Regions from separate parts of the Homo sapiens genome. Here regions 1, 2, 4, 5 and 6 are each reported to be linked to region 3. The links are microRNA targets in miRTarBase. Many come from high-throughput screens and were not tested one by one. Region 3 holds a microRNA gene; each other region holds the end of a gene's coding sequence.
Evidence for each region. Region 3 holds the annotated microRNA hsa-miR-1236-3p (CCUCUUCCCCUUGUCUCUCCAG, at 2,729-2,750, opposite strand). A microRNA usually pairs through its seed, bases 2 to 8, with sites in the 3' UTR of a target mRNA and lowers its output. Matches are read on the target gene's strand: a 7mer-m8 pairs with bases 2 to 8, a 7mer-A1 pairs with bases 2 to 7 and ends in A, and an 8mer does both.

Region 1: the mRNA of NSG1 is a reported target of hsa-miR-1236-3p. Seed matches in the 3' UTR shown: 8mer at 1,552-1,559.
Region 2: the mRNA of SH2B1 is a reported target of hsa-miR-1236-3p. The part of its 3' UTR that is shown has no 7-base or 8-base seed match.
Region 4: the mRNA of CELF1 is a reported target of hsa-miR-1236-3p. Seed matches in the 3' UTR shown: 7mer-m8 at 792-798.
Region 5: miRTarBase lists AKIP1 as a target of hsa-miR-1236-3p. The part of its 3' UTR that is shown has no 7-base or 8-base seed match.
Region 6: miRTarBase lists PKIA as a target of hsa-miR-1236-3p. The part of its 3' UTR that is shown has no 7-base or 8-base seed match.

Annotation. Positions count from the first base shown.
Region 1 is chr4:4,416,608-4,420,691 of GRCh38, forward strand. It overlaps NSG1 (neuronal vesicle trafficking associated 1), which reads left to right. Exons shown (of 5, transcript NM_014392.5): 5 at 628-2,451. The coding sequence ends at 828. It overlaps STX18 (syntaxin 18), which reads right to left. Exons shown (of 11, transcript NM_016930.4): 11 at 2,361-3,522. The coding sequence ends at 3,427. Among named protein-coding and RNA genes, the nearest start is that of NSG1, 32 kb to the left of the region's middle.
Region 2 is chr16:28,873,556-28,877,643 of GRCh38, reverse strand. SH2B1 (SH2B adaptor protein 1) reads right to left here. Exons shown (of 8, transcript NM_001387430.1): 8 at 3,439-4,088. The coding sequence ends at 3,824. Among named protein-coding and RNA genes, the nearest start is that of ATP2A1, 2.9 kb to the left of the region's middle. RefSeq lists enhancers at 16-105, 116-185, 2,690-3,190, 3,191-3,691.
Region 3 is chr6:31,954,111-31,958,198 of GRCh38, forward strand. MIR1236 (microRNA 1236) reads right to left here and starts at 2,830; the gene lies at 2,729-2,830. NELFE (negative elongation factor complex member E) reads right to left here. Exons shown (of 11, transcript NM_002904.6): 3 at 2,831-2,900; 4 at 2,583-2,728; 5 at 1,109-1,183; 6 at 949-986; 7 at 445-782; 8 at 188-332; 9 at 1-24.
Region 4 is chr11:47,468,417-47,472,504 of GRCh38, reverse strand. CELF1 (CUGBP Elav-like family member 1) reads left to right here. Exons shown (of 15, transcript NM_001376376.1): 15 at 148-4,088. The coding sequence ends at 275. Among named protein-coding and RNA genes, the nearest start is that of RAPSN, 21 kb to the right of the region's middle.
Region 5 is chr11:8,918,939-8,923,026 of GRCh38, reverse strand. It overlaps AKIP1 (A-kinase interacting protein 1), which reads right to left. Exons shown (of 6, transcript NM_020642.4): 6 at 2,948-3,690. The coding sequence ends at 3,547. C11orf16 (chromosome 11 open reading frame 16) reads left to right here. Exons shown (of 7, transcript NM_020643.3): 6 at 1,512-1,733; 7 at 2,577-2,951. The coding sequence ends at 1,711. Among named protein-coding and RNA genes, the nearest start is that of AKIP1, 9.8 kb to the right of the region's middle.
Region 6 is chr8:78,601,034-78,605,112 of GRCh38, forward strand. PKIA (cAMP-dependent protein kinase inhibitor alpha) reads left to right here. Exons shown (of 4, transcript NM_006823.4): 4 at 709-4,079. The coding sequence ends at 788. All of the region lies in intron 2 of LOC105375911 (a long non-coding RNA gene), which reads right to left. Among named protein-coding and RNA genes, the nearest start is that of PKIA-AS1, 45 kb to the left of the region's middle.

The DNA of each region.
Region 1 (4,084 bases), not on the chromosome of region 3:
CAGAATCCGCTTCCTGATAAACCTCTGTAAGACCCAAGTGCTGTCTCGCACTCCCCCAACCCACGGCCCCTCCCTACCCCCTCGCCATCTTCCCAGCCCCTAGTCATGACCACCTAGTGGCTCTGTGTGCCTCTTCTGACTCCCGCCCCAAGGCCCCTCTCTGCTCTGGTTTCCTTTGCCTTGAGTGCTGCCCCTCCCTCATCTCACCTAGCTAAGGTCTGCTGAGAACCTAGCTCAAGGGAAGCTCTTCTCACTTCCCTTCCGTCCTCATTTGAATTGGTTGTTTTGGGATATTTCATAAGTTGTTGTTTTCCAATTGATTAAAAATGACAACTAGTGCAAGATCTTCAGTGAAGTAAGGCCTGCTGTCCCATTACACTGGCACCCTTGGAGCCCAAGTGCCCATCTGCCATGGCACTCACCAGCCAGTCTATTAAGAATAATCAAGGCCAGGCTTCCCCTGTGCTGTGCTCTCTCAGGGCAAGATCCATGCCCGTTTTTGCTCATCACTGTATCTATTCCTCCAAGCTCAGGGAAGGTGCTCAGTAACTGTTGGCTGCCAACTGGAGACACACTGGCACCCCCTCTTGCACCGACGCGTGCTCTCAGTGGCCTCTTGTCTTTCAGAACACCCAGTGCATCCCAGAAGGCTTGGAGAGCTACTACGCGGAGCAAGACTCCAGTGCCCGGGAGAAATTTTACACAGTCATAAACCACTACAACCTGGCCAAGCAGAGCATCACGCGCTCCGTATCGCCCTGGATGTCAGTTCTGTCAGAAGAGAAGCTGTCCGAGCAGGAGACTGAAGCGGCTGAGAAGTCAGCTTAGCGGGATGGGCAAGTTCCTTACAATGTGTCACTTGCAAATAACAAAGGGACTTTGAGGGACATTTCATTAAATATAATTACTGATACTTTAGAGGTTACTCATTTACGGTGCAATTGCTTCTGTTTGCTAATGCTGCTTTGCAAATAAAACTTGCTGCCGACCACCCACGGGCATAAAATCAAGTGCATTTCAGCATTGCCTAAAGAGCTCTGACACCACTTTTCATGTTAAGATCTTCATTTAGCTCCTTTACTGGGATTTATTGGATGCTGTAAAAAAATAAATTTACACTGGATATGCGAAGGGTTTGGATCTCAGATAAATGCATTTTGTGGAATTGATTTTCTGAACCGACCCTGCTGTCTGCAAACCTTCCTCCATAGCCATATCTAGAGTGATCTCTCGCTGTGCTAAGAGCAAGCCTACTTCGCATTTCTTCCTCGGCCATCAGCGGGTAACAGTGCTGACTGCTGCCAAGGTGCACTGTAGTAAGTAAGTGGCATAGAGAACGAGGAAAAAGACCCCCCCACCCCTCCCTGTGCTGACTCCTGAGTCGGGGTGGGACGGCCCTGCAATGTGGCAGGCTCGGTGTGGATTGACTACTCCCTCCCCTCTGACTCTGGCATCTTGGTAAGGAGGGAGGGGCACCACCCATCTGGGTGGAGACAGCTGGGGTTTGCTCCAGTGTGTGTAGACTGGCAGAGCATGTGAGGGAGAGGGCTGGGAAGAGACGGCCCTGGGCCCGTGAGGTGCAGAACTCTCCCTGCAGGTAGTCTGTCTGCTCTGTGATGTGCTGATAGGAAAGAGCCCCCACTGGCCCTCTGGTTCACTTCTATTATGAATAAATTTGCACCAATAGCCCCATTAGTTTTTAAAGAAATGAGCTGGGTGGGAAAAGTGGAAATGTAATTTCTGGTAAGCTTGAGCTACTTTAATTTTTATTCTATGAAACTGATATCCCTTGATGTGGGAAACAGGCAGGAAAGGCTGTGGGGTGGGGGTGGGGGACTGGTGTGGCACCGTGCAAACAAAATGACAAATTTCAACTCACAATCTTTGTAAGAAAATTGTTCCAGTTTGAATCTTGATATTAAAGTTTATGTTTACAAAACTGCCAGTTAGATGAACTAAGTGTGTAAAACAAATAGAAAAGACATTCGCAGACATTTCTTCTATGTTATTGAATGTGTTGTTTCTGGTGTACGTGTCAAAAGTTTCAGTTTTTTAGATCAGAAATAAACGACAAATAGTGTGAGATGTGTTGTGAACAGGCATGGTGACCGTGGTCAGCGCCACTCTTGTTTCCTGAAATGTGCTTCTAAGACAGAAAATGTATTTTCTCATCAAGGGTGTCTGGAGACACAGACCGTGACCTTGGCGCAGCGGTGTGCATCAGAGGCGTGTGCTGAGAAGGGTGGTGTTAAGCTGTGGAAAATGACTCAAGAGCAATAAATCAGTGCCAAAGCTTCCCTGCGCATCTGAATAGACACAAGTGAAGCCCGTGTGCGCACAGTGCAGAGGCCGAGCCTGTATTTCCAGGTAGACGTGGACTTTATTGACTGTGAATTCATTTACATGTAACTTCTGACATTTCACTCTGTGCAAATAAAGAACATGAGGATACCTGTGCTGCCCAGTGGACTGTCTGTACACACACGCATTTCACCAGGCGCAGTGCAGACTGTCTCATGCCCATGTGGGCGCTGGGATGCTTCCTGTACAGATGTCTCATGCCTTCAGTTACACATAGGTGTTCCTGTTTACAGTTCCTGGAGGTCAGAAGCACAGGCACGAGAGAAGCAGGCCCGTTCTTCCGTGGCCCACTTCTTCCTTTGAACAAAGGCTCCTTGGACCCAGTGGCGGGAAACTGGCCCTCCCACACCCCCTGCCTGTTCTGGGGGCAGCAGTCTTTGGAGGAGTAATGCCAGGCAGCCCCTCACTGAGGGCCCCAGTCTCCCCTGCATTTCTTCCCTGATTGATTGATAGGAGGTGGCTGGGCTGCCACTGAATTTGTCAACTTAGACTCATTGACAACACATTAAGGGGCTGTAATTATATTTATTAGATTAACAAGGCAGATGTGAATTTTCTCTTCTATAATCCAGTAAGTCTGTGTATTCGTTGACTCAGACAGACAAGAAGCCACAAGGAAACAAAGAAGTAATCATTTGTTGAGAGACGTTATTAACTATGATCTTCCCTGAAGCTACCGGGATGGGAAAGGTCAGTGTCTTCCTTTGAACCCTGAGACAATTAGGGGCTCTTGAGGCCTGCTGTGCCCCTGCTGCCAAGGCAGCCTCAAGTTCAAGGAGCAGCTAATCACCCACTCCTGCATTCAGTCTGTCTTGCCTGATGAGGGCTACGCAGGCTGCCTCCCATTGGTGTGCACTGTTTCCTTTTTCAGCTGCTAAATGGCTGAACACCATCGGCCTGGGGTATCCCTTTTTGGGGAATACGTCTGTCTGTCTGAACTCCTTTCCCTTCAAATGGCACTGTGATAAAATCTGGTCATACCATGCTCCAGCACTGGAAGTACATGAAAGCACGCAGTCTGTGAGTGCCCATGAGGACTCTCGTGCTGGGCCCCCGTGGCCCTGGCTAGCTGTCGTACCAGTCGAGGAAGAGCAAGGAGAAGGAGCACATCACGAGGAAGAAGAGGATCCACACGCGGAAGCCAGCGTTGTTTTTAATGGCCTGGGCAGGGACGGGAGCACAGGTGTTTTTATCACACAGGATTTTGGTTTGAGCAGCCCTGAAATGCCCCCCTCTTCCCACGTGCTCTCCTGATCCTGGCTGTAACTATGGGTGTCGTTCCATCTGTGCTTACCTTGAATAGATGGCTTTTGAGATCCACCAGAAGACAAATGGGTTATATTTCCCTCTGTTTGGCCATCATTTGGGTCCTGCACAATTCTCCCTCAACACAACTCTCGGAATCACTCCCTTCTGTCCCAGGGTTAAGGGCCCCGAGCAGAGTGTGACCGCAAGCTTTGTGTTTCCCAGTAACATGATGTCCGTGGTGACCCAACCCTGAGGACTGAGCTTGGGAAACAGTCCCCTCAACAGGATGGCTGTAGTGTCCTCTGTAAGCAGGGGCCAGGCTCTGACCCCTCGGTGGGGGCCAACGAGCTACCCATGTACATCCCTGGACATGAAGAGCTGGCCTGACCCTGCCAGGAGTACCCCCACCCACCCTGGATTGCTCCTTTGGAGGCTGGTGAGCCACTGCCTCTCGAAAGCAGCTGGAGGTGGGCGA
Region 2 (4,088 bases), not on the chromosome of region 3:
GTAACTGTCTCAGGATGGGGGCAGGGGTCACCCCAAGTCGTGCACTGAGGGTCACCTCATCCCACACTGTGCTCTAACCAACGGGGTTTCTGTGGCCAGCCCCAGAGGCCTGTGGTCTGCGCTGCACTCTGCCCTGCTGCATCTGTCCACGAGGGGAACAGGATCAGGCCCATGCTGTGTGCGTGCAGGAGCTAGGCAGACCCCACAGAAAGGTGTCGGGGCCTGGGGAAGCTGGACCAAGCAGGGGCTCCAGACCAAAGGAATGGGGAAGGGTGGACTTCTGGGGACAGGTCTGGGGGAAATAAGGACAGATGTCTAGACCTAGGGGGAAAGGGAGCAGAGACACAGAGCCACCAGGGTCAGAGGGAAGTCCGAGCAGCAGTGGGGAAGAGGGACAGCAGGGAGCCAGGTGGGCGGGGACCCCGGCGCTGGGTGCAAAGCCACAAGTTGTTGCTGAATGCTGGCCTTGGTGTCAGCTTCCTCAGAGAAGCAGCTGCTCTGAGCTGCCCCTCCCCACCCCTGCTCCAGGATGGGGGCGTCTCTTGGTTACCACCAGGGCAGCTGCTGGAGGAGCCGAGGGAGGGTACCAGGGGTGCAGGAAGGGGAGGACAGGCAGGCAGAAAGGCTGGATGAGAGTCAGGGTGAAAGGTCAGTGAGGGGAAGGGGCCTGGTGCCCTGGGCTCAAGTCCGTCCTCTGTCTAGGCCTGTTTCCTGAAATGAGCAGAGGCATGTGGACTTCCTAAGTGTGGCTTCTTAAGGCTGCTTTCCATTCTGGGGCTCAAACTCCGAAGCAGAGGACAGAATAGGAGACAGCAGAGCAAAGAAAAGGGAGGCCCCCACTTTTGGGGAGGGGGATGGCAGCAGGGGTGGATGGAACTTGAGGGTTCAGCCTCCCAGATGCATCCCTTCTGCCTGGACTTGGGTGAGGCGCGGCCTCCTGGGTGAGTTGAGGACAAGGTGCTCCTTCCTGCCTCCTTTTCACAGTTCCAACAAACCCCTCCCCTGAAGCAGAATCCTGCTGTGACCTGAGGGGAGTGGGGGACAGTGGGCTGAATTGGGGGTGCAGGAGAGCATTAGCAGCCTCTCTTCCAAGAGACACAGCCCCCGGCACCTCCACCCGGCCCAGCACCCACCGTCTCCGCTGGACTCAGGCTCACACCCGCCAAGGCTTTTGGCGCTGGCCGGCGTCTCCCCACCGGCACCTGGAGGAGTGACAGGGGCTACTGTCTTACAGCAGTGGGAATGCCCAAACATGGAGAGGGGCAGACGGAGAGATGGGCAGCTTCGAGGGAGTCGAGAGCCTGAGACAGAGGGCAGGGGGCAGGCTTGGCAGCACATTCCTGCCAACAGGCCTTTAAGGTTATTCATTTCTACCTCCCCCGGCTTCCCAGAGGGGGAAACAAGCCAGGGAGGGAAAGCCACCCGCCAGGAGCTGCAGAAGGGCTGCTCTAGGGAAGGCTGTGGGTGTGAACTGCCATGGAGGGAGGCTGAGCCAGAGGCGCCCTCGGGGATCCCTTCCCACAGGGGTCTCCACGCCCAGGGATGGAAAGTGATCCTCCTGTCACACCTGAGGGCTGGAGCTAAAAGCATGGGACACAGAGACACCCTGGCCAGTCCCTGATGAGTGCAGAACTTCGGTTTAACCATCTGTAAAGAAAGGCTTAGAGGGAAAGTCTCTCAGGCCCCAACAGCCAAGACATGCTGGTCTGAGGAGTGGGTGGGTGTCCTCGTCCCCCTCCCCTGCCCATCTTTGGAAGGCAGGTCCCTGAAGGCTGGCAGGGCTGGGGGAGGGGGAGCCTCAGAGCACCAGTTGCTGCTGGAAGATTAGGAGGGGATCAGGCCCTGCTTACCTCGGGGCACCACAGCCTTCACTGGCCATCTCACTAAGAACCCAGCACCCGGCTCTCCAAAGCTTCCCCCACTTTCAAGGCCGGTCCTATCCCCAGTCTCCTGAGGCCAAGGTTTGGGGAGCCCCAGAAATTAGAGCAAGCAGGAGAGCCAGCAGGCTTCCCTCGGCTAGCCCCCCGCCTGGGTGGCCTGGAAGCCCAGCTGTCTCCTGTCCATCTCCCTACAGGACACAAGGCCCAGAATAGCAAGGTCATGAGCGTGGGTAGGGCCTCCTGGAGGTGGGGGCTGAAGCTGAGGGGCATGAGGGTGTGGGCTCCTTGCTGCCTGGGCGGGGAGTGAGGCAGGATGCTGAAAGGCGGAGCTGGACAGTGGGGAAGGGAGAAGGCCGAGCTCAGCGGGTGGGATTCTTCAGCCCCAGGCCCCTCCTTGTTGGCACCCACTACCCCCAGAGCTGGGAAGCCCAGGGGTGCCCTCTGTTGGAGGGCACAGCCACAGATCAGGAAGACTGATTCCAAGAGCAGAGCCTGTGTTTTACGGGGTGGAGGGGTGTGCCACAATGGGGGTGGTGTTATAAACTCAAATGCCCACAGGGCCAGGCCCTCCCAGGGAGCAAAGTGAGCTGGTGGGGATGGGGCAGATGTGGAAGTGGACCCACATCACTGGATCTTCTGATTTTTAAGAGAAGCCAGTGATTTTTTTTTTTTTTTTTTTTTTTTTAGACAGAGTCTCGCTCTGTTGCCCAGGTTGGAGTGCAATGGTGCGATCTTGGCTCACAGCAACCTCCACCTCCTGGGCTCAAGCAATTCTCCTACCTTAGCCTCCTGAGTAGCTGGTATTACAGGCGCGCACCACCACACCCGGCTAATTTTTTGTATTTTTAGTAGAGACGGGGTTTCTCCACATTGGTCAGCCTGGTCTCAAACTCCTGACCTCAGGTGATCCACCCACGTCGGCCTCCCAAAGTGCTGGGATTACAGGCGTGAGCCACCACACCTGGCCTGTGATCTGAATTTTTAATGTGAAACTCAAATGGACACCATGTCCAGGCCAAGCAAACCATGTCAGCAGCTCTGACTCAAGATGAAACTTCACATGTCACAGATGAGGATGCTCAGGCCCGGCGTGGCTACACCTTGCCCAGGCCAGTGAGTGGCAAGGCCAGGACAGAAGCTAGTGCCCTCTGCCATCCCTCCAGCCTGGCTTTGAGAAGGGGGCCATTGGGCCCCTCTGCGGCTACCCTGTGACTGCCACGTTCAATCTCTTCCAGCACAGCCACCGTGCCTCCCATCTCTCACTGCCAGCTCTCTCTAGGGTACAAAGCCATAACTCAGGAAGGGCCGCTGGAGATCACCATGCCTGCCATTCACAGCACTGTCCCATGACAAAAACTCGCAGGAGACCCCAAGAGCATCATTTAGTGCTCCACGAACAAGGCTGTCAGACACAGGGATGGCTCCGAAAGCACAGCACTGCAGAATGATGGGGACTGGCCTGGGCCAGCCCTCTGGCCTGTGGGCACTGAGTGGGCTGCCTTCCCAACCCAACTGTCCCCAGTCCCCACAGCAAACAATGGCCATAGCCATCACGATAGAACCGAGATAAACCTTTTTATTTATTTATGCTTCTCCATTTTGTTTAAAACAACAACAACAACCACCTTAATGTAACTGACAGCCCTTCCCCCTCACCCTGCCTCGGGCTGGGGGTAGTTAATGGGGAAATGGCCCCCAGGGTGGGGCTGACCAGAAGAGCCCCTCAAGGAGCTCATGGAGCCCAAATCCCCTGCCCTGGGGAGGGGACCTGTAGTGTGTGACGGGAGCCTCTCCCGAGCCTCTGCTTGTACCATCAAAGATGCCCTTGGCCAACAAGGGTCAGGAAGCATGGGGGAGGGATTTCGGCCTCCTCTGTCCCTACCCAGCCCAATCTCACGAGCAGGGCTGGGGGGTTTAAAAAGGGTGGAGCGGGTGGGGTTGGCTCACACGAAGGAGTACTGGTTGTTAATGGCCCTGGGGTGGCCCCCTTCCTCTCCATCACCCCCTAGTGGTGACTGCTGCAGCTGCACCATTGGGGGCACCCCCGCGTCCCCACCAGACCCAGCGCCCTGGGCCTCTGAGCCTGGGGCTATGGCCTCTTCCAATTCAACCACGGGGACCAGCTCAACCACGGGGACCAGCTCTTCCGGGACCCCTCCACCGCCCGCTTTCTCTTTCTCTTGCCTCTCTTTGGCTGCTGCGGCTGCT
Region 3 (4,088 bases):
TTTTCATAGGTGACGAAGGCACAGCTGGGATAAGAGAAAACACGGTCAGTGGAGAGCCAAGGGGCTCTTCTGGACCCAACCAAACCCAGTGATAATAGGCGGCTGCAGGGAGGGCAGCTTCTTCCCTCAGGTCTCACACCCCAGGATTCTCCCAGGACTTCTCATCATGCCCTGTTGTCATCCTTACTTTCTGGGTGGGTCCATGGAGAGGTCAATGATGTTTCCAAAAGGAGAGAAGGCCCCACGGAGAAGGGTGGGTGTCATGTCTTCTCCATATACATAGAGAGTATTCCCTTTCCTAGGGGCTCGCCGTTCAGGGAATGAATCCGACCCTTTGGGAGCACAAATCATAGTCACAAGACATAGACCATGCCACATTTCACTTAGTAGGACCCACATAAACCTCAGTTAAGGTCACCTTGACCTCCAGCCAAAATCACTCACTGCGGAAAGGACCCTCTCGGTCTCGGTCTCGATCCCGCTCCCGATCCCTGTCCCGTTCCCGGTCTCGATCTCGATCCCGATCCCGATCCCTGTCCCGCTCTCTGTCTCTGTCTCGATCCCGGTCTCGATCCCGCTCCCGATCTCGGTCTCTGTCCCGGTTCCTCTCATGGCTGCGGTCCCGGCTGCGGCTTCGGGGAGGGGAGGCTGAGGAGTGGGCACCACTGCGTTCTTCATAGCCCCAGTCAAAGCTTCGAGGGGGACCATCACCAGCCCCTGGGCCCTCTGCCTCTTCTCCATCTGGTCCTAGTTCTCGAAGTCGATCACTAGAAGACACAAAGCTGGGGAGATGCAGACTGAAGATCAAAGGGGGGTTTTACCTTCTCCCCTCAGACCCTGTGGAGACTCAATATTCCCTCTATAGCCCAGCTCCTACAGCCCAAACCTCCCAAGGACTCAGGCAATCAACTCCACCAAATGGGCCCAGCCTTATCTCTACTCTCTAACCTCTCATACAGAGATTTCCTCTGGGGACGTCTGGATGACTGTAAAAGAGACCAAGAACAGTTAAGATGATTTCCAGTTGCTGACATGTGGTCCAAAATATATTTGTCTCTCATATTCCTCCATCCCCAACCCCTCAGGGACAGAAATTAGGAGCCTTTACCTCTTGCAGGTCATCATCAGCAGATATGCTCCTCTGGAACGGCTGGAAAGTGGGGACTGGTCCCTTCTCGGGGTCCTGGAGTGGTGAGAGACCTACCTCAGTGTGGAGCAGGAGGTTGCCCAACCATGGACCAGAGGTGTTCCTCTTCCCTCACCCTCTTCTAGGTTTCCTCTGATCTTTTCTTCCCTTTTAATTCTACATACATTTCTTATTTGACGTGGTTTTACTTATTTTTTTTTTTTTTTTTTGAGACACGGTCCTGCTCTGTTGTCCAGGCTGGAGTGCAATAGAGCAATCGTAGCTTGCTGCAGCCTTGACCTCCCATGCTCAAGCAATCCTCCTACCTCAGCCTCCCTAGTAGCTGGGACTAGAGATGTGCTCTACCATGCTTGGCTAATTTCTGTATTTTTTTTTTTTTTTGTAGAGATAGGGTTTCACTATGTTGCCAGGGCTGGTCTCAAACTCCTGGGCTCAAGCAATCCTCCTACCTCGGCCTCCTAAAGTGCTGAAATTAACCAGGAATGAGCCATTGCCGCACCTGCCATTGTGGCTTGTTTTGTTTTGTTTTTGAGACAGAATCTTGCTCTGTCGTCCAGGCTGGAGTGCAGTGGTGTGATCTCCACTCACTGCAACCTCTGCCTCCTGGGTTCAAGTGATTCTCTGGCCTCAGCCTCCTCAGTAACTGGGACTATAAGTGTGCACCACCACATTCTGCTAATTTTTTTTTTTTTTGAGACGGAGTCTCGCTGTCACCCAGGCTGGAGTGCAGTGGCACAATCTCGACTCACTGCAAGCTCCGCCTCCTGGGTTCAAGCAATTCTCCTGCCTCAGCCTCCCAAGTAGCTGGGACTACAGGCGCCCGCCACCACGCCCGGCTAATTTTTGTATTTTTAGTAGAGATGGGGTTTCACCTTGTTAGCCAGGATGGTCTCGATCTCCTGACCTCGTGATCCGCCTGCCTCGGCCTCCCAAAGTGCTGGGATTACAGGTGTGAGCCACCGCGCCCGGCCTCACACCCTGCTGATTTTTGTATTTTTAGTAGAGACGGGGTTTTACCATGTTGGCCAGGTTGGTCTTAAACTCCTAATCTCAAGTGATCTGCCCACCTCAGCCTCCCAAAGTGCTGGGATTACAGGCATGAGCCACCACGCCCAGCTGGTATTTTTTATAAGTGACTCGATATATTATGTATTCAGTTTATTTGAACCTCTCTTGAACCTGATAACATTTTCAGCCCTTTCCATCCCTTAGGGCAACATATTCCAAGAGCTCCAATCCAAGGTGGATTAGAACCACAGAATTTGTAAAATGGAGAATTCAGGAGTCGTCTAGTTTTTTCATTTTATACATGAGAGGTGAAACTCAGAATGGTACAGCAATTTGCCAGTGCTTGAGTATGCATATTTTTCCCCAAACCCATCTACATTCCAACTTGGAGGGATGCCCTTTAAACAATCTTTCTGCTTGTGCTCACCTTTAACTTCCCCTCAAGGGTTCGAGAACGCTTGAAGCCTGAGTTCTTGGTCTCAGCCTTGATGGCACTGATGGCTCCTGACTTCACCAGCTGCTTTGCCTGCTCTGTTGCTGTGGCTGTGTCCATGACAGGCTGCTCTGATAGTGCTGGAGAGACAAGGGGAAGAGGCATTATGTTGGCCAAGCCATGATGAAGGTCAGCTCCATGCTGCCCACTTCCAGTCCATCCCCATTTCCCCTGTCACTCACAGCGTTTGACACCACCTTGGCTGGTTGTGCTGCTGCTACTTTGCTTCTTCAGAGCCAGCAATGCCTTTTTCTGGGAACAAGGGTGAGAAGAGAGAGGTAAGTGAGGGCCAGCCCCTAGCCGGTTCCTCTCCTAAGGCCCCTGGGCACATCACTCCAGGGACCGTCTTTCTTGATGCCCTCAGAGTGGTACACTGATGTGCTCTGCCTCTTGCCTCTGGTCCCCTAGATCATGTATGATGCTGGAAATTCCTAATCTAACCAAACCACGGAACCCAGAGGTTTTCCAGAGTGTTACATTTTTGAAGTTGAAGACAAATAACTCAATCATGGACTAGAATCCTAGGATATAAGCTGCAAGTAAGTATAAGTTTATGTGCCTTTCCTGGAAGCTTCATCCATCTATTTCCTGCATATTGAATGAGGCCCAGCCATGACTTCGTAACAGGGATATCCAGGAGGCTAATGCATTGTTCCTACCCTCAAGAAGCTTACAGTCTGAGAAATAAAATACATTGAGTTAGCAATACAATTATAAGAGGTGCAGATTATTCATAGCTGAAAGCTAGTAAGATTTTCTGATGTTTAATGGCTATTAAACTAGGCCCTCTCCCGTATCTCTGCACAACACAGAGAGGAGAAGGGTATTTTAGAAAAAGAAAACAGGGTGGCAAAGATGCAGAGATAAGAAGGCTTTGGGAATGCATCTTTTGGAAGTAGTGAATAGTTCTACTTTACTAGACAAGGCTGCCAAACTAAGGTTTTGAGGCTTTTTTATAGACAATGTGAAGCCATTTATGGTTTTTGAGAAACAGAGGGAGCAGAATTTTGTGTTTTCAATGGATCATTTGAACAGGAGTGAAGAAGTCTGTTCAAAAAAAAAGACTGAGAAATTTGTTGAGAGACCATTACAATGGCCCACATGAATGTCAATAAAGCCCTGCTCGGGGGAATGCACAGTGAAGAATAAACAGGAAAAATTACTTCAAAAGAAGAAACAATAAGACTTGGCAAAGGTTTGACTATGCAAATAGTGGGGAAGTCAGAGTTTTGAGTCCAAACATGTGGCAGAATTGGTGTAGTCAATCTTATTTGGAAGATCAAGAATAGAAAGATGATAGCTTCAACACTGAGTATCTGAAGTTTTTCAGTATAACACTGGATAGAACTGGAAAAAACAAACTTGGGGATCATCAGCTCTTAAGCGGTACTAAAAGCCATGGGAAAGGAAGACAATCCATGGCAAATTGCATAGAAAAGA
Region 4 (4,088 bases), not on the chromosome of region 3:
TTCGTATGACATAATGTCCAGATTTCTTGTCCCTGCTGAATAAAATTGGGATTTGAGATGAAGCACATAAGGTATCTTGCATAAGGAGGACTGAGAATCTCCTTGCCTCATTATGTCCCTCACCTAGGTTTCTGCTTGGACACACAGGTTTTGTAAGTTACGACAATCCTGTTTCGGCCCAAGCTGCCATCCAGTCCATGAACGGCTTTCAGATTGGCATGAAGCGGCTTAAAGTGCAGCTCAAACGTTCGAAGAATGACAGCAAGCCCTACTGAGCGTGCTCCCCTCTGAGACTGGAGTGAGAGGGTCTTCTGGTAAGTGGGGGAGGAGCACCCTTAATGATTCGAAGCCCTGAGGCTGTGTGTTGACAGCCCTGGACCCTGATCCCTGCCACTCTCGCAGGCACAGCTTGCCCTGAAGACTCGGCTACTGCCTTCTGTGGGAGTTTCGCTTCGTACAGAGGACAAGTTTGTGCTTTGGTTTCCAGTGTTTTACTTTGGAGTTTAGGTGCCATATCCTGAGGTTTTTTTTGTTTTTGTTTTTGTTTCTCCTTTATTTAAAGTTTGCTGTGTTTGTAACCAGTGTGTGTTGAGAAGGACCAACACCAAACCACCCTGGGGAAGGGGGACAGGGAAACATTTAACACAGACGATGATCAGGATTTGCCCCAAACCACCCCAAGAGAGAGGACTGAGTGGAACAAAAAAGTGACCCCCAGAACCTCTCTTAGTGTGAGGGTGGGTAGAATGAGAACTGACACCTGGGAGCTGTGGGGAGCAGAGCGGCTTTGGGGAAGAGTGGAGTGACTAGACACCTAATGCCCTGGCAGCTGGAGACTCAAACTCCTGTACAGCTACCTTCTGGGAAATAGTTTTTGACACCTATTTTTCAGATTCTTGTCCGGAATTTCTGCTGCTCTTTTCAAAAAAGGGCATTAACAATTCTCTGGAAATAAAGCACCTGTTAGCCTGACATATGCAAAAAGCAGGGCGGCATCACCCATTACGAGCTCCCCCAGCCAGCAGTCAGTATTGGATTGGCCTTGCCTGGCTGGTGGCAGTTTGGGAGAAACAGCCAAAGAGGTTAGTTTATTTCAACACCAAATTAGACCATGGCCCATTTCCAACGGGTCTCTTTAAAGGCCTCTATGGAATACATTGCCTGGTTTCCTTCTTTGCAGTTCACCACAGCAAGGAATGTCACCTCCATCCCAAGCCACCATTTTCTCATGAAGGCAAATCCAAGAAGGGCTTGCAGTTCTTGCTGAAGGGGGTACCATTTGTGGGCAGAGTGATCAATACCATCTAGTTGGGGGAGGAGGAGCTTATTTCTTGGTGTACTTGAATCAGAAGGTCCCTGCAAGCCAGTATGCTTCATTTGCCAGTGGCCAGAAATTCTCCCTTGCCTCCTTGATTGAGGTGTCCCAGATGTAGTATTCCCACAGGGGTCTGGCAGGCCCCTCCTGTAACCACTCCAGTCACATTTTCTGCTCTTGAGGCAGAGGTGACATCAGGACGTTTACAGCCTCCACATGAATTGAGTGTTCATTTACCTCAGTATTACCGTGTTCATTTTTGTCCTCGTGCTACAGTTAGCTCCCTGCCGCCTCTTGCAGGTCTTACTTCAGCTCTTGCCTGTGACCCACACAGCTTCTGGGCTCTGCCTCTGCTCTAAGAAGTGCTGTGGGGGTAGAGAACCAGGAAGGACATGCTGTTGGGAATGTACACCTGGGCAGAGGTGGCCCTGTTAAGATGTGACTGTAGCCACAGCCAGGGATGGGATCCCTGGGTCTCTGGAATCTGAAACCTCAACAAATACCAGTCTTGACCCCTAGCAGCAGAGATAAGAATAAAGGGGTTGGTTTGCTATTAAGTCAGATGGGGGCTCTCTCCTTGTCATGCTGTCCCTGTGGGTAACAGACAGGGATTGACCATCTTACTGTTGTACAGGTAGCTGGTGGTGTTGGATTATCCCATTGAAGCTGGGACAGCTGTTCCTTTCTCATAGTGATAACTTGGGTCTGTTGTCCTCTAAGGAACGTGAAACATACACTTCTTAAGCTGAACCACGTAAACTTGAAATTCTGCGCACTGGGAGAAATGTGTCCTGTGTTTCAAAGGATAAAACTGTTCTAAAGGCTTCCAGGGTCATGATGGGATTTTTTAAATAAATGCAAAAAATAAAAATAAAAAAGAAAAAAGAAAACAAAAAAAAAAAAGAAAAAAATGCTAGGTTGGGGAGGCGCTGTTCTGAATCCCAACCGGCTGGAACCAAGAATGTCGTTTCTATTTTTATAGAAGTTTTATACAGCTCCGGGGTGGAGAATATTTATTACCTAAATTATATCTCTGGAAAAGGCCAGGATTTTGTAGAATCCAGAATGTGATTGTTATACACACAGGGTGCTGTGTATGATTGAAACTACTGACTTTCTGTGGCCCGTTTGCAGCCCAGCTAACCTGCCCAAGGGGAAGGTGTTAATGCTGTGAATTGGCAGAGGAGAGAGCTGTGCTCCATAGGGTGCTGCCGGTGCTGTGCTCCCTAGCCTTCTGTTCTGTCTTCCTCCTTAGCCAGAACGCCACTCCCTTCCCACATCCCCTTCTTCTCTCCGCCTTCCCCCATCTCACCATTATTTGTCCATGGATTTGTCCTGGGCTCTGGGACCTTATGAAACCCCTTTCCTAATGACATAAGAGGCCAAGGTGCAATCCACCCACCTTTGATACCAGACCCTGAGGGCTTCATACCTGCTGATGGGTTTTCTTTTCTAAAAGGAATGCTCGCCCCAGCAGGGTCCTGGGCTGCTTGAGCAGCCAGCTGGTGAGACCATGCACTTCTCTGTTCTCTCCTCCCCCTGCCCAGTGAGTTAGCACAGCAGTAGCACTGCCCTTGAGCACAGTTCTTTCCCCAGGCCAAAGATGGTTTTGTGAAGAAGCTGCTCCCCTACAAGTCTCACGTGTGAAAGGGCTCAGCTCAGAGTGGAGACTCGCTGTCAAGTCTTAAGCAATCCTTTTCTGTTGTGTGAAGGTTTCACTTACAATGTGTTTTCTGCTGTAGTTTTGTTTCTTACTTGGGTTACATCATGAAATTGATTTGCCTTGAATGCAGCCAGACCACTGTCTCCTGGGTTCCCCTTGAGTGGCCAGGGCCTGGATGGAAGCTAAGAGCTTGGATTTCTGGGAACAAAGGGCCATCCCCATAAGATTGAGCAGAAATTCTGGTCCTCTTCCCTGAAAAATTTTCCCCACCCCAGCCAGCATCTTCTGCTTCCCCTTGGGTTGTGACCAGGGAGTGGGGAGAGAGGCTGAGGCTCTGCTCCCCTGGAGACCTTCTCTTAGGAGTTGGGTGCTTCATGGAAAATCCAAGCCTTAGGTTCCCTTCTGTCTCTGGCAATTAGATGTGTTCTTGGTGTCCTCCATGTCCTTTTTGACTTTTCCCTGTGTCCATTGTTAGCATGTGCAAAAGTTCCCTGTCATTACCCAACCCCTGCCCGCCCACCTCATTTCAGGGCTGTACACACAGTGAGTGTTCCTGTTCTCTCTCTCTTTGTTTGGATGTATTGCTCTGTGTAACTCAGTGGGTCTCCCTCTTTCTGGTTTGTTTTTTTTTCTAGATTCCTGCCGTTTGTTCATCGTTGTGCCTAAAGCATGTCGATGTGGCGTCAAGTACATCGTCCAAATCCCTGTCTCTTCAGCTTCTCTGATGCTTGAACTCTCACCTTTGACCTTGTGTTGACCTTTGATGCTGATGTGTATTTTTATTATGTTTGTTTCTTTCTTCGTTTTTTTTTCTTTTTTTCTTTCCTTTTTTTTTCCTTTTGTGCTGCCAAATTGGTTTTGCTAGAACGACTGCTGAAGGGGAAATATTTAAACTTGCATTTGAATATAAAAAAAATCTATTTTTCTAGAACTTCATAAGATAACCACTTGATTTTGTGATTCCAATTCTTTGTAATTGTCTTCAGAGCAGCCCTACTAGCACATACCGCGTGGTGTTTGTATTTCTGTGAACACACAGCCAGTCCGTTTCTAGGCTTTGTTTCTCTGTGTGCTTAGTTTTAAAGACAACTTTGAAGTAAACAATGAAAT
Region 5 (4,088 bases), not on the chromosome of region 3:
TAAATACTGGATCTTGTGTTATGCTCTAGGGAAAGTTCCTGGGGCTGACCCATGAGCATCATCAGTATGTTCCCAAATATATGGAGAGCATGCCCGAGAGGGGGTGTGGAGACATGGCCATCCCCCGCCCTCACCACATGTGTGGGACTACCTGCTCACTAGTGAAGAGAAGCACAGAAAACCAGGGTCAGGGCTGAAACAAGGCAAACACCAGAGCTTTGCTTTTCTCCCCTCCAGGTTTTGTATCTTTTAAAGGAAATGTGCTGTTTTGCTTCTCCTAAACATGCTTGATGTTTAATCAGTTCTTGCTATCAGGACTTGATATCCGTTCTGTCGAGTGCTGATGCTTGACACTCAATTTTGAGCTTTGCCTCTCACAAAAGCTCTTGCATAGGTTTCTCTGTCCTCCACACTTTCCCTTACTTTCAGTTACAGGCAGTGAGAGGTTCCAATTAGATCCTAATAGTCCTAGGGAGGCCAGATTGTGAGCTGCTGGCAGGGAGGTACTTTCTGCCTCCTTTGACTGAAACAGGATTCAATCTGTAGTTTTAAAAGAAACGTAAAAAGCATTCCTTCCCTTTTAGATTGGTCTATTCCTCAGGAAGTCACATCTCCCATTATTTTTGTTTTGCCCCAATTTTTTTTTTATTTTTAGAGACAGGGTCTCACTATGTCACCCAGGCTGGTGGGCAGTGGCACGATCATAGCTCACTGCAGCCTCAAACTCCTGGGCTCAAGCAATCCTCCCACCTCAGCCTCCCAAATAGTCGGGACTACAGGTGTGCACCAATGCACCCAGTTCAATTTCTTAATATTTGTTTTCTATCAGCTTGTAATCTCTTCTTTGTGGTCTGTGTTATCAGTGATCAGTGAAGGTGTCGAAGCTCCTTTAACTGGTGGCAGTCAGTTACCTTTGCTTGCCCTACTGGCAGTTTAGAAGACACATCCAATAACTTCTTCACAACTCCAAATCTTGGGTATCAGGTAATGTTTCCCAAAAGCATAAGGTCCAGAAATGATAACAATTTTTTTCTCTAAAAATAGAAAACATTACATGGACACATTGCATGATGGCAAAAGAAAACAGGCCAGGTGTAGTGGCTTATACCTGTAACTGCAACACTTTGGGAGGCTGAGGCTGGAGGATCTCTTGAGCCCAGGAGTTCAAGACCAGCCTGGGCAACATAGTGAGACCGTTTCTACAAAAAACTAAACAATTAGCTGAGCATGGTGGTGTGCGCCTGTGGTCCCAGCTACTGGGGGCTGTAGTGAAGAGCGGGTGGCAGGTGGGAGGATGACTTGAGCCCGGGTGGCTGAGGCTGCAGTGAGCTATGATCATGCCACTGCATTCCAGCCTGGGTGATAATAGCAAGACCCTGTCTCAAATACATAATAAATGAAAAGAAAACAATGCTTGAGCTTACAGATACTTCAGTGATCCTTGTTTTAGTTCTACTTATGCCATCAAAATGGTGGCATATTCAACCTAAGTAATTGACTTTTGGGTTTAGGAACAAGATATTCCAACATCTGCAAAGAAGAAAAGGATCACAAACAGCAGAGAGCACAAACTGCAGTAGTGGGGACTACCAAGGAGCTGGTCTCGAAAGCAACCCACATGAAGCCACCGCGGACCCCGCCAGGGGAAGCTGAACACAGAAAGCGGAGTCAGAGCCTTGCAATATGTCAGTGGAACAAGAATTCCCGTTAGACTAAGAGCCCTGAGGATCTAGGTAAAGCAGAATGGCTGGAAAGGGGCTTCCTAAGGACTCCTCACATGGGTCTTAGACCTTTTGGGTCACATCCCCTTTGAGAACAGTAAAACCTATGACCCCTTGTCCTAGAAAAATGCACATACCCTCAATTTTGCATGTAATTTCAGAAGGCTTATGGAACCCATGAATTTAATCACAGGCTTCTTGGGGGTGCAAGGATCCCCGTTTAAATGACCCTCTGTTCTATGGTATTGGGTAGGGGTCTGCTTTATTAGGCCCTCTGAATATGGAGTCTATTCCTCACTAAGAATGATAATATAGCCCTACTTAAACTTTATTTCCATTATATAAAATACTGGCACCTTTCCCAAGGAAAGGTTTGTGTTCAAAATGAGAGAATCACCAGGCAACGAAACTGGGAGATGTCACAGTTCTGCTGTGGCAGCTTCAAGACATTTGGGACACAGCAATGACTTTTTTTTCTGAGACAGGATCTCACTCTGTCACTCAGGCTGGAATGCAGTGGCATAATCATGGCTCACTACAGCCTTGAACTCCTGGGCTCAAGTGAGCCGCCCACCTGAGCCTCCTGAGTAGCTAGGACCTGAGTAGCTAGGCACATGCCACCACACCTGACTAAATTTTTTACTTTTTGTAGAGATAGGGTCTCACTGTGTTGACCAGGCTGGTCTTGATTACTAGGCTCAAGTGATCTTCCTGCCTTGGTTTCCCAAAATGTTGGGATTACAGGTATGAGCCACCGCACTCGGCCACAATCAATGACTTTTTAAAATCAGTGACTTTTGATTCTTAAAATTGCAGTCAGCATAACAATGTATGGAATTTTTCCCCCTTTTATAGGTAAAGAATAAACATGGTAAATATTCGAGGAGAGTTATACAGAGTGGCTGACAAGGCCTTCTTCAACGGAAGGAGGCAGAGGACAGGCCACAGGTAACAGTCAAATAACCACCAGTATCTCCACCCCACGAAGACCTCCCTGCAGATAAGCAGCAGGAAGGCACCTGTTGTGAGGGCTATAGGAATGTGGGATCCTGCCCTGGGGCTCCCTGCCAGGGCCCTGGTGAAACTGCTTTAAGATGCCTCTTCCGTGGAAGAGGGGGTCAGCCTGCTTTGGGCAAATGTGTCCACAGCCACTCTGCCACCTTCCCATAAAGCCTAGTTGTACATGAGTGACATTTTGTTTCACCTCTTAATAAAAATGAATTCTCTTCATTTCCAAATCTCTTTATTATCATAATTAACCTTTACTTGGAAAGCAAGCAGTAAAACCTGTTCAGACAGCATCATTATATTACTTTCAGGCAAACAAGCGTGGAGGACCTCTACACCCTCAAGTTAAAAAAGGCACTGAGGCCGGGCGCGGTGGCTCACGCCTGTAATCCCAACACTTTGGGAGGCCAAGGTGGGTGGATCACGAGGTCAAGAGATCGAGACCATCCTGGCCAACATGGTGAAACCCCGTCTCTACTAAAAATACAAAAAAAATAGCCGGGCATGGTGGCGGGTGCCTGTAGTGCCAGCTACTCGGGAGGCTGAGGCAGGAGAATGGTGTGAACCCGGGAGGCGGAACTTGCAGTGAGCCGAGATCACGCCACTGCACTCCAGCCTGGGCAACAGAGTGAGACTGTCTCAAAAAAAAACCAACCAAACAAACAAAAAAGCACTGAAAGAGACAGACTCCAGTTCCCGGAAGGCTGACCCAGTCAGCACTAAAAACAGGATTAATGTATAGCTATTAAGAGAATCATACAGTGGCTTTATTCTTACTACTTAAAAAAAGGTGATGTGATGGCAGTGATGGTCAACATCACACAGGGAAGACCAGGTCCACGCTTTGTCCAGAATCAACTGCTACCACATGAGTCTTCTTGGTTAAGTCATTTGAGCCCACAGTGACAGAATAGGTCCCTGGATATACTTCTATGTAGAGGTCCTTAGAGATGTTCTCAGCCTAGAAGGAAAAGAGGATATTAGCAGTTTAGAGATTTTATACCCCAGTGCCACCATGGCCCCCCAGCAGGCTACCTGTCCTTGCAGAGGTGTGATGGAATGAAGCGCTAATGTGGGAGACAGAGGTCCTGCTTTCAAGGCTCAGCCTGCTCACGTACAACACTGTCATTTTGGTAGGTCTCAGCCTTTCCTTATTTCTAGCACTGTGATAATACCTCACAAATAAGCATGTGAAAACACTCTGTAAATGCTAAAGTGTTATATGAACATGAAGGATTATAAAAAGAACACTCTACTTGGAGTTAGGCAGAAGGAAAGGCTAGAGGCCACTGTTTTGGGGATCAGAAGTAGACAGTGGCACTTAGCACAGATGAGCAGTAATGACAAGGTACTCGGGAG
Region 6 (4,079 bases), not on the chromosome of region 3:
TGCACTTATATAAAGTGACCTAATATGGAGTGAAAGCATTGAAATGTTTGCCATACCACTGGCTAAGATTGCTACTGAGGGTGCAGTTATGAGGGTGGTTTTATTGGAATTGTGCACATGTTCTCTAAGGGCAGACCAGAGGCCATTGTAACTATTTGACAAGGGACTGGCCAGCTGACATAGTGTCCTTTCATTTTCAACTATTGCTTTTACTTTGAACTAATAGAACCTCTGAGAAATTAGCTGGGTTATCATCAAGTGCTATAAAAAGGAGAAAATGCAGTTTTAAAATATTTCTTCAAATAAGACAATCAGGCATAAAAAGGTAAACATGCTCCCACTTCTGATTTCTACTTAAAGACATTTCTGATTTCTGCAACCTGTGAAACTATACCTAAGTGACATGACCTGGCCTTGAGATTTCTGAGCTATTTATCCAAAGCTTGGCTGATCACTAACTACTCTGAAAATTTGAATATTATTTTGTTTTTGAGCCGTGCTGTCCCAAGTTCACAGAATTAATCAGTCCTTGAAAACTTAAGCTGTTTTCTTAGTGGTGAACTGACTACCAAGAAAATATACTTGTTCCTTCAAGGTTTCAGGCCTATTTAGTATTTCTGAAGTTACCAATATGACATATTGACAGTTGGTAAATAAAAGCAATCATTTTTATTTTGCCTTTATTCTGTTTTCGTTTTTCTTTTGCAGAAGGTGAAGAAGATGCACAACGAAGTTCTACAGAACAAAGTGGGGAAGCCCAGGGAGAAGCAGCAAAATCTGAAAGCTAACACCCCACTTTGACCCTCGACCACACCTGAAAATGTCTCAAATCTCCAGGAGTATCTGGAATGCATTTGTTTCCATGAGTGAAAAGAGGAAAAAGAAAATGGCTGTGCTGCATTGCAGGAACCTGCTCATTATCATGTTAAAAATGAGGGCAGAGGCTGTGGCTGCAGGCAGACTTTTCCCTACCTCTGTCATTAGCAATGGTTGAAATCATGTGGCTTGTGTTTGGGCGTCATTTTTGTATGGATCCTTTCACTTGATCATATGACGAAATGCTTATAGAGAGTAGCTCCGACCTAGATGATGATTCTTCCTGTAGCATCTGGCCCCTCACAATGTCAGAGGATTTAATTGTGTCTAATTGCGAAGGGTTGATTGAACCCCAGAGTTTAAATATCTCTGGCTCAAGTGTTCACCCAGTAAAAGAAAGATCCAGAAAGCACTGTTTTTAGCATTACGTATCTGTGTGTTACTGCTGTGTTATTTACACTGTTTTGTATTGTACAATATATATGCTCAGCACTGCCCCCTTCTCTGATTGCTTATGAAAAACAAAATGATGTACATTACTGTGAATTTTTATACCACTCATTTTTAAAAGGGCTGTCTTTTCATTTTAGTTTTCCATACTGTGGTGGTGTACACAGGATAGAACACCCTTTTTTAAAACACAGTCTTTCCCCTTGCTCATTGTATGTTGATGAGTTGATTAAGTCTAACAGATTCATCAAGACTCCATTGCTTTATTATAGAGACATTTGAAAATATCCATTAATGTGAATATCACCTGAATTCAGTCTGTTTGGTGTCTGCACAGACTGGAATTCAATCTGTCAAATTTGTTTTATTCTCAAGTGGAGAACTTCTCCCACATAATATATATATATATATATATTTTAATTTATGAGAATTTTGGACAATTGGAAAGGTAGAAAAGAAAAGCCAAGATCATACTAAGGACTGGAAATATTTTGTTCTATGGAATCAAATTTCTCACAATGCTGTATGATACTATTTAAATTTGGAGGACAACTTATCTTCACTAAGCTGAATCAGGTGGAGAAAGTAATCTCCTTGCAATCATGTGGACACCAATCACAAAAGTAAAGCCCTGGTGTTGTGTTTTCATGTCTTTTTTCAGCCCTCTCAGATCCAAATGTTATTATGCACTTTTTAATGTTTGTAAACTTTTACTAATAATTAGTGTGAATTGCATTCTGATACAATAATGATTATCATTAGAAGCTAACAAAATTCTCATTAATACTGTGTTTGATGGCCTCTGCTGTGTTTTAACATCGTGCTTCTTATATGGAAAGTTTTTGTGAGCTGTGTAATCCCTCTGGTCAGTATTATGAAATCATTTGTCAGTGGTAATAAATAAGGAACCAGTAATATGCCAATGGTTCATGAATTACTGGACAAATAGCAGACAATGGGAGTCCCTTTACAATAACGAGCCCACTTAGCTGTCCTTGAGGGCTTAGATACCTTGCCACGTGAAGTAGGTAGAGCAGCATTTCAATAGGTAATTTGTGTGGTTGTGCCAGAAACTCAGCCCTTCTATGTAATTACATACAGGATAAAAGGTAAGTCTGCTCACTTCTCCTTCTACAGGGCATTTCAACTGACTGGAATAAGGGCATGGTTGCATTTAGTACTCAATCAGATATTACTAGAAAAAAAATTAATAATGTGAGCCTTTCCGAGAGCAGAACGAGGAAAGATTAAATTTTAGAATGCTTCCTTCTGTCTAATCCATCAGGGGCCAAAATGCCCAGTAAAATTCAAACACATCACCTATTAATAGACTTACAAGTGAGAAAAGAGGTTCCTAGGGTTATTTTAGGCAATCCCTGGTAAACTGTTTAAACCATCAAACCCCTACAGTCAGTTTTCAGTATCCTCATTTAATATTTTAATAGGTTTCTTGTGAATTTAAACTTCTCTTCTTTCTTAAGGTTGTGAAATTCCAAACTGATTTTATGTGATTTTGAAAAGTTTAGAACCAGTGCTGAGTCTATGTGGAGGGTTTATATTCCTATGTGATATACTGTTATTAATGCATGTGGTGCCATGCTTGTCTTTAAATATATAAATAGTGCTAAATTGCAAAGTCATATGGAGCTTTGGATTTAGTTTGACTTCTTACTACTGCTTTGTCTGCTATATTCAAACCCAAAGGCATTCCCAAGCTAGGGAGATAAAAATTAATTTTCTAAAATGTCCACATCCTATACATTTTGCTTATTCATGGCATCTTTCAAATTTTATTTTAGTTTCCTTTATTTGCCAAGAATACATATGGATTTGAATTTTTAAGGAGAGAAGGAAAGGGTAGGAAACCAGGGCCTTGGGTTTAGTAACAGGCATTGGATGTCTATTAACCAACTATTCTTACGCTAATGGCTTTGCAGCTCCTATTCTCCCATTTGATCCTCAAACAATTCTATTAGAGTGGTATTTTTATCCAATTTCACAGATTAAAATATAAGCACTCAATAAAATATAACCTTTAGAAGCTTAAAAAGCTAGTAAGTGATGAACTGAGGATTTGAACCCATGTTTGTCACCAAGGAGCTTTCCAGGGCACATGTCATAAAATTAGAGCCAACTGCAGAGCTGTAAGGGAACTTTTAGAGATGAACTTCTTCAGCCTCCATATTTTACAGAAGGAAACTGAATCCCAGAAGGAGAAATTGCCGTTCTCAAGGCTCCCTGGATGGGTAATAACACAGATATGAGTAGGTCACATAAAGTATATCTTTTTTAAAAAAAAGAAATTCAATTATGTCTTATTTGGGGGGTATATTTCCCAGAAGATATTTTTCTGGCATGTGGTCTGTAAACACAGCATGATTCATATTTTTTATGTTTCATGCTACTCATTTTGTTTAATTACCAACAAACATGGGGACTTTGGCTTTTTGACTTATTTGCAACAAGCATGAAATTGTTAAATTTACCTTTTATCAATTGTAATCATCCTATGCCAACATATTATCATAAATTCATAGAAATATTTTTAAAAATAAATAACAGACATTGAAATCCAATTCTTAGATAATACTCCCAGAACAGCCAATGGTAAATGCCCTATACTTGAGTCTTACTTAGATGCTGTGGTAATGCACCATTTTAGAAGATGAATGATACTGCTATTTCTCTTCAGGGAAACAATAATGGATAAAGAAATGTAACTGCCGGGCAGCAAAGCTTCTAAGTGAAACCTGTAGTAGCAGTAGTAGTAGGGAGAAAATGTGTAGTCATCAAGTGAAAATAGGAAAGGATCT